Linked DNA regions of Homo sapiens. The protein of the gene in region 2 purifies or fractionates together with the protein of the main gene of each other region. This does not show direct contact. Each region holds a gene or a part of one and is shown on either strand. Other genes may lie near its edges.

What was found. Proteins that work in one complex are often made in the same cells at the same time.
Region 1: the proteins of COL21A1 (region 2) and PLOD2 purify together in Homo sapiens (affinity purification with mass spectrometry; one large-scale study listed by BioGRID and IntAct). This does not show direct contact.

The regions. Positions count from the first base shown.
Region 1 is NC_000003.12:146,077,685-146,081,184, forward strand, and holds part of PLOD2 (procollagen-lysine,2-oxoglutarate 5-dioxygenase 2 isoform 1 precursor), read right to left. Parts: intron 1,574-3,500; coding exon 1,432-1,573; intron 241-1,431; coding exon 178-240; intron 1-177. UniProt on the Homo sapiens protein: Forms hydroxylysine residues in -Xaa-Lys-Gly- sequences in collagens. These hydroxylysines serve as sites of attachment for carbohydrate units and are essential for the stability of the intermolecular collagen cross-links.
Region 2 is NC_000006.12:56,244,781-56,248,899, forward strand, and holds the start of COL21A1 (collagen alpha-1(XXI) chain isoform a precursor), read right to left. Parts: upstream 2,801-4,119; 5' UTR 2,607-2,800; intron 1-2,606.

The DNA.
Region 1 (3,500 bases), on a different chromosome or scaffold from region 2:
TCACACAAGACCCATGCCCAAGTCACACAAAACACGCAAACACACAGATGACTGATGAAAATCAACATTTTACCAAGCTAAATGCAAATAAGGCCCTTAAAGAAACTTTACTACTAGGCAATATACTATATCAAATATTAAATAAACAAAAATAAATAAAATAAGTAAAAATAACACCTTTGGGGGGCTGAGCATTTGGAATGTTTCCGGAGTAGGGGAGTCTTTTTCCCTTTGTAAAGTCTAAAATGAAGAGAAGCATTGGGTAAGTTGACCTGTACACCCGCTCTCTCAGGTATTCTTTGGTAAATAAAAATAATAGCAGCTGTTGATCAAAAGCTAACATTCTGAAATGTCCTTCATAGACAACATGCAGAACAAGCAAAGCTTATAGCACACACAAAGAAACATCTCCAGCTCTTTCAGCCCTTCTTTTCTTTTCTTTTTGGGAGGTGTGGTGGGGTCAAACATAAGTCTAAGCTCATTCCTTAGCAGAACTTTCATTAGACACATAAGACAACGGAAAAAATGAGTAAGAGAGGCCATTCCATGATGCGCTGTTGAGTCAAATTAGCCAAACATGAGCACAAAATACTATCACAAGTACTGAGGATATTCAATAATAATGCACACAGGTTTGTAGAGAAAACAAACATATTCAAACAATACATGCTTTGTTAAACTAAGAAAAAAATACTTGCCAACTTTTCTGACTTTTCATCAAATCACAATTGCTTATATAAATTTGGAAATCGGAAATAAAATAGCCCCATCATTTCTAAAACCAAAAATCATATCAATATATTCTAAGCCATGTTTATGCATTTTGAAAAATTATTTTCTAGTCATTTTAAGTTTTATAATAAAAGTACATTTGTAGTGCAGCAAGGTATCATTAGTATTTTATTTAGAGTAAATACACTATGTATCTCAACACTTCTACTAGTTTGGTGGTAATAATCCTGCTTTCTAAGAATGTGAAGTTAATAATAATTTTAAAATTTTACCTAGTTAGAGAAAATGTGGACATTAATTTTAGAACAAAAATATTCTTAAATCTGGAAATATTGTTTCATCGAAGCTTATCTAATTAATTTTAATTAGGTCAAGTTTTCACTATAGAATTTCAAATTAAAGATGTATTCTTAAAAGAGCAAAGCTGATTTGTAACAAATACATCTTTATTACTGAAATCCAACTCGGTTGCCTATGAATTAGCCCGAGCACAAAAACTAACATTTTTCATACCATTTCTATAAGTAAATGTTAAATTATCTCCAAAATTACTCCCAAATTTTTTAACACAGAACCAAAAAAATTGGCTAGTACTTACAAATTAGCAAGACAAAGGGCATCAAAACACAGTGACACACCAACTGGTAAAGCAAGCCATCTTATAAGAACATTCAAGCAAGCCATCACTGCATATCTTACCATTTCTCTAGCATTTCGGCAAAGAGCCATATCAGGATCCAGTTTATCACGAACAAAATAGTTCCTTTCATTCATCTCTGATCGGAGTGTCTTTCCTTTAATTAAGTACACATTAGCCATATATGGGACATTCCATACTCCTCTGAAAGTAAAGAGAAGACATTCTTATATACCACAAATACAAACAATTTTAAGTTTCATTTTTACCTTTTTAAAATAAATGCTTTGTGTTTAGATTTTGTATACATAAATTATTGAATCAACATACAAATATATTCAATGATATATATATAAGATTACATTGTATACACTATATTTAATGAGATTTAGGAGATAAACCACTGCCCCTTTGGATACATTTCAATTTTGGGTTGGTATCTGTTTGGCATTTGTATTATAGCTATCATATCTCAATCAGTTGTTACAATTAGACTATTATAATCTATTGTATAGACGGTGTTTCTATTTAAAATTAAAGAATTTGATAGCATGAATCATAACATACAACCAGTGGTGCACTAGACCCAGCTCATACTGGCTCCCCAAAGTTAACTTTTTCTGCCAAGTCCATGTTCAGTAATTTCACATTGGAAACTTGAAATCAGCCATGGTAGAAGTATTTACACCAAACAAATGGGCAAGCACTTTAAATCAGGGAATCCTCCACCTCCAAAAGCCAGTTGTTACACATTTACCAAAATACCACTGAATATAGCCTAAAATTCTCCAAAATTATATTCTCTTACCATTCATTAAGCCATCTTAAATATTTTATAGAAAAAGGAAAACATGAAGAAATACAGCTGGGAGCACATGAACGTTGCATCCTTTCCCACATCTATATTCTCACTCTGAACATGACTGATTTCATAAAAACTGCAAAACAAGTTTTGCCCCTAAGACTGTGCGCCTTTCTTTTAGAGAACATCAAGGCAAGATCTTGACCAAGAAATGCAGTTAGATATTAACGGAAATATGATATTATGTCTTACTAGACTAGCCTCAAAGAAAAATGCCTTAAGGAGTACAGCAGTCCCCGCCTTATGTGAGGGTGATACATTCCATGACCCCAGTGGATGCTTGAAAGCAGATAGTAACAAACGCTACACATACACTACGTTTTTTCCTACACATATATACTTATAATAAAGTTTAATTTATACATAAAGTACAGTAAGACTAACAACAATAATAGAACAACTATAACAATATGCTGTAATAAAAGTTACATGAATGTTTACACTTTCTCTATCTCAACATATCTTCGTATTTTCAATCCACAGTAGACTTGAAACCATGGAAAGCAAAACCATAGATAAAGGGGAATTACTGTATACAACGTGTCAGCTAAATTCAGAAATTAATCTCTGGGGAATTATTCAGTGTTTCAACTTATACACACACACATACACACACACACACAGTTGCTCCTTCGTGTAGCTTTTGGACATGAAGTGTATTCCAGATCAAAAGCTTCTGCCATATTTTTTTCCTTATACTTTAGACAAGAATGACAGGAGGTTGGACAGAAAATCACCAATGCCTAAAGCAACTTGAAACAAATTTTCCATTCTACTTTCACAAACCCTCATTTGTGATGTGCCCAAAGATACAATCAGGTATATTGTCTATACAACTCACCCAGAGTCAATACAACTGCACAGAAACAACAGAATACGATCTTAATAGTCTTTTCTCCTCCACTGTGCATTTTAATTGCAGCTAACAAAAACCTTTATTGTATTTACATCATTCAGATTGAAGCTTTCCACACCAATTACTATTTCCACAAGCAACACATCTTTTTACCACTCAACTGTTTGAACAGAAACGTGTGCCTTTTTTTTTCTAAATGTAAGGGCACATCCTTTTAGTCCTGAGAGTATACTGCCCCTTTTTAATCAGGCTGACATGTTTGAGAACTAAGGCAAAGCATGTAATGTCTTAGTCACTCTGGTCCATCATATGTATGAAAAAAAGAATGACATTCTTCTCCAATATTACCTTAGCAAAACTATTTCAATTGTGATTATTTTTAGTAATCAACCATTGTCTCTGAAATAAATATA
Region 2 (4,119 bases):
AAAATAAAAGAGAATGGAAATTAATTTCAAAGTACAGAATCATTTGGCATCTTTTTTGGCATTAATACCATAAATATTTTCACTAGATCTACTTGGTCCTAAGAGGATAATAGAGATCAGTTCCAATCAAATAATGTGAAAGGAATTGATTGTATGCATGTGTGTGTGACTTGAAGCATTTTGAAATTATTGCAGCTAAGGAAGAAAAGGACTCATTACCTCACCTACTCTTTTTGCCAGTTTAGGCTTGTCCTTGCTCTGTGTCCTCATTTTGCTTCCTCTTATATTTTCTTGAACAAATCATGATGTAACTGGATAGGGTTTCCTTTATTCACTCTGTTAAGAACCTAAGAAACACCAGATAGTACTTCTAAACTAGCTTTCCTGGAGACTACACCATCTCACTTTTAGATGCTCTCTCATTTGGATTTTCTTTTACAAAGAAAAGTATTCTGAAGAACCAGATTTTACGGCTATTTAAATATGAATGTTAATACATTATAAAGGCTACCAGAAGGTGAAATCCTTCACCACAGTGACTTAAAAAAACCTAGGCTATTGATTTGAAGCTAATCTAAAACTTTTTCCAGAAAGTTCCATATAAAGTATGTAATCAAATTATAAGGATAATTTGAGGATGTCCATATAGTCACCTTCTAAGAGTGCAGTTGGTATTTAAATAAAAATCTAATCATGTATCAACATAGATCTTCTTTTAAGGTGGTTGAGGATTATGTTGTTTGATGGTGTGTATACATGAGTTTGTATTTTGAGCTAACAAATATTTAACTTACTATGCTAGGCACTTTAGAAGCATTATTTAACTCTGACAACAATGTGAATTATGAGGTAAGTGTACTAGTACGCCCCACATTTCACAGATAAGGAAAATGAGGCTCGGAGAAGCTATGCAACTATCCAAGAGCACAGAGAAGCAGAAGAGCAGGTCTTGAACCCAGGTCTGCCTCAGACCAAAGTTCCTGTTCCTAACCACTATCTAAATTTCCCCCAGATTCTCTAAATACAAGCTTAGTACCTAACCCTTAACAAGTTTATATACCTCAGTCACAAATTGGCACAGAAAAAAAGCAGTTTGGAAAATAAATGTTCTCTGTACAGGAAGTCTTGGTACAGTTAGCCCTGTGTTCATTGCAGCACGCATGTGCTGGGATTGGAGTCATGCCTATTCTAGATTTTCTTATCCAGTGTCAGATTTCTAATCCATTTAAGCCCATTTGCAAAGTCATTCTATTTTTGAACTAATGGCTTAGAAACAGCTGGAACTATTTTAGCCAAAATTTTGAAATCTCAGATATCTATAAAAAGAAAAAAAAAATGGTCCACTTCAATAATCCAGAGGCCTGCAACACTGAATTCCCTTTCACTAAAGAGAATTGGCATGAATCCCTTAAACCCTCAACTACTTTAGGAAAAGACAAAATACGCATATGAATGCTGTAACCTGCACTGATGACAGTGATGATCCAGGAACATTTCATCAGGGGTCAAAGATTCCTGTTATTACAGCTGGAAGACTCATGTATATTTCTTCCTTGGCTTCATTTCAACTTTTAGAAAAGGAAAAATTCCTATTCTCTCCTAAAGCAAGTATACAAATTCTACTGCTTAAAAATTATTCGATGATGCTTAAGTCTCCCCTTTATAAGATCTTTCAAAGTCCCCAGTATGCTTTTTTTTTTTCAATATGGGCAAAACTCTACTAATAAATAACTAAGGTTCTTCTGAAAAGTGGTCTGTTGCCTCCTCCCTTGGTGAAGGGAAATTTGCAGGTGTCTTCTCTGATTAAGTAAGGTCCAACCCAACAGTTTTCAAACTTGAGCAAGCACTAGCATTACCTGGAGGGCTCATTAAAACACAGGTTTCTGGGCACCAGCCTCAGGGTTTTAGGTTCAGTGGGTCTAGGGCGGAGCTAGAGCCCTAGATTTTGTTTGTATTTCTCAAAGTTACCAGGTGCTTGCTGCTGCGGGCCAGATGCCACACAGCGAATCACTGCTGTAGTTCGCTGCTTTCTATATTCGACTGCACTTTGGAATCACCTGACAAAAGTTTTAAATATGTTAATGCTCAAAGTCCCACCCCCAGAGATTCTGAGTAATTGGTCTGGGGTGCTGCTCAAGCATCGATTTTTTTAAAGGTCCCGGAGTGAGTCCATAATGCAGCAGCCGTAAAGAACCTCTGGCCCACTCAACACAGCCCCAGACCCACAGCTCTGCGCGCTCAGCGCCACGTGTGGACGCTGGAGACCCTTCCAAGAAGCTAAAAGCTGAGGGTGGGGTTGAGCTCAGGGGAGTAAATCAACGCACGTTATCGTACTCAGAAGCCAAACACTCCAAGGCAGGAATCTGCACCCAGAGAACCTCCCAAGATTCATTAACATGAAGTAACTTTGCAAGACAAATCCTGACATCTCAGCCTCCAGCTGGGCGCGGAATTCACCGAACAGTTCACCAACTGCTTTGGCGCAGGGAGAAGACTGCACCCCCAGGAAACCCAAAATGCCAAATTGCAGCCCCTGGAGAGCCAGCCCTGAGGCCCCCCGAGATGTCATTCTGGCAGCGAGAGGGGAGTAGGAGGTGTCTCCTTACCTGGCGCAGTGTCCAGGCTCGGGGTTGCCGTCGCAGCCAGCTGAGTGTTGCGCCAGGGGGACAGGTATGTTCCAGGCAGTGGCAAGCCCAACCCGAGCAAGACCTGCGCTGAAACGGATTGGCTGCCCTCCGCCCGGAGTCCGTTCTCCCTGCAGCGGCCAGTGCAGAGCTCAGAGGCTCAGAAACTCGCTCTCAGCCCCCTGGAGGCGGAGCCCGGGAGATAAGGTTCGCGCTCCCCACCCGCCCCCTTTCCTTGGCCGAAGACCAGAGGGTGGATTTTGGATCTGGATCTTGAAGGGCGAACTGCTAGTGTCGCCCTGGTGGAAACACTCAGTTCAAATCCTGCTAGCATCAGAAAATGCACGATTGAGGATTGAAAACGAGGGTGAAGGAGGACCAGGGAAGCGCGAGGAGAGAGGCAAAATAAGGGACTGCCAGGAAAGCAGGAAAGGCAACTCAGTTGAAAGGGCAAGCACTAAAGGAGGCAAAGACTTGGGCAACACCAGAGCATCGCCTGCACTGATCGAAGGAGGCCTGCCTCCCTTGCCCAAGAAGAACCCCCCTCTGGGGCGCCAAGGTACGTTGCAGCGGACTGATGTTCCTTGCTTTCAACCAAAAGTAACAGCTGCTCCAAAACCTGAGGGAAGTTCACTTTCAAATAGTCAAGTAGGCAGTGACCTTTAAGGGTTTAGCAATTACAAAGGAAGCCTCGGAATAAGGTGACAGCCTTATGACAAGATAAAGATGCTGTCTGCTCTGCCCCTTTGAGTGCATTCTTCACAGAGCAGCCAGAAAGTTATTTAACATTCATATGCTTTCCCTATTATCTGCAACTCTTCTTTTCTCACCCGTGTGCACCCCTCCTACCCCAACACACACAAGACCTGTTTGCCCTTTCTTATACACACCAGTGTGTTCTCATCTCACTTGGCATTTCTTCTGCCTCCAAAACTCTGTCCCAGACCTTATCATAGTTGCTTGCTTCTGTTCATCAAATTATCCACTCTTTGTGACACTTTGAGACACTTTGAGAGTGAGTCCTTCCTGTACATCCCATCCAAATGGAATGCCCAACCCCACTTTGGTTTCAACAGATCACTTATTGCTATCTGAAGGTTTTCATATCTTCATTGCTTGTGTGTGTTTCCTATCCAACTCAAGGTATGCTCTATGAGGGCAGGAAATTGGTCTTGTTCCCAGCTGTGTCCCCTGAGCCTAGAACAATACCTGGAATATACAAGGTGCTCAATAAATATTGGCTAAATGAATGTGTGAATTAATTTCTCCCTGTGGGAACAGGTTCACAAAGAAATGCCTTCTTCAATAACTAAATCTCACTTAATTCAGGTGTGATACAAACATCTTCAAATGATCATTTCCTGAATTTCCTTATTCATTCATGTTAGATTCTACTGTTACAAAAATATGATAGGAGAACATTGCTTTGGATTTGGTAACATCTTCTTAGATATGACACCAAAAGCACAAGCAATTCAAGAAAAAATAAGTTAGA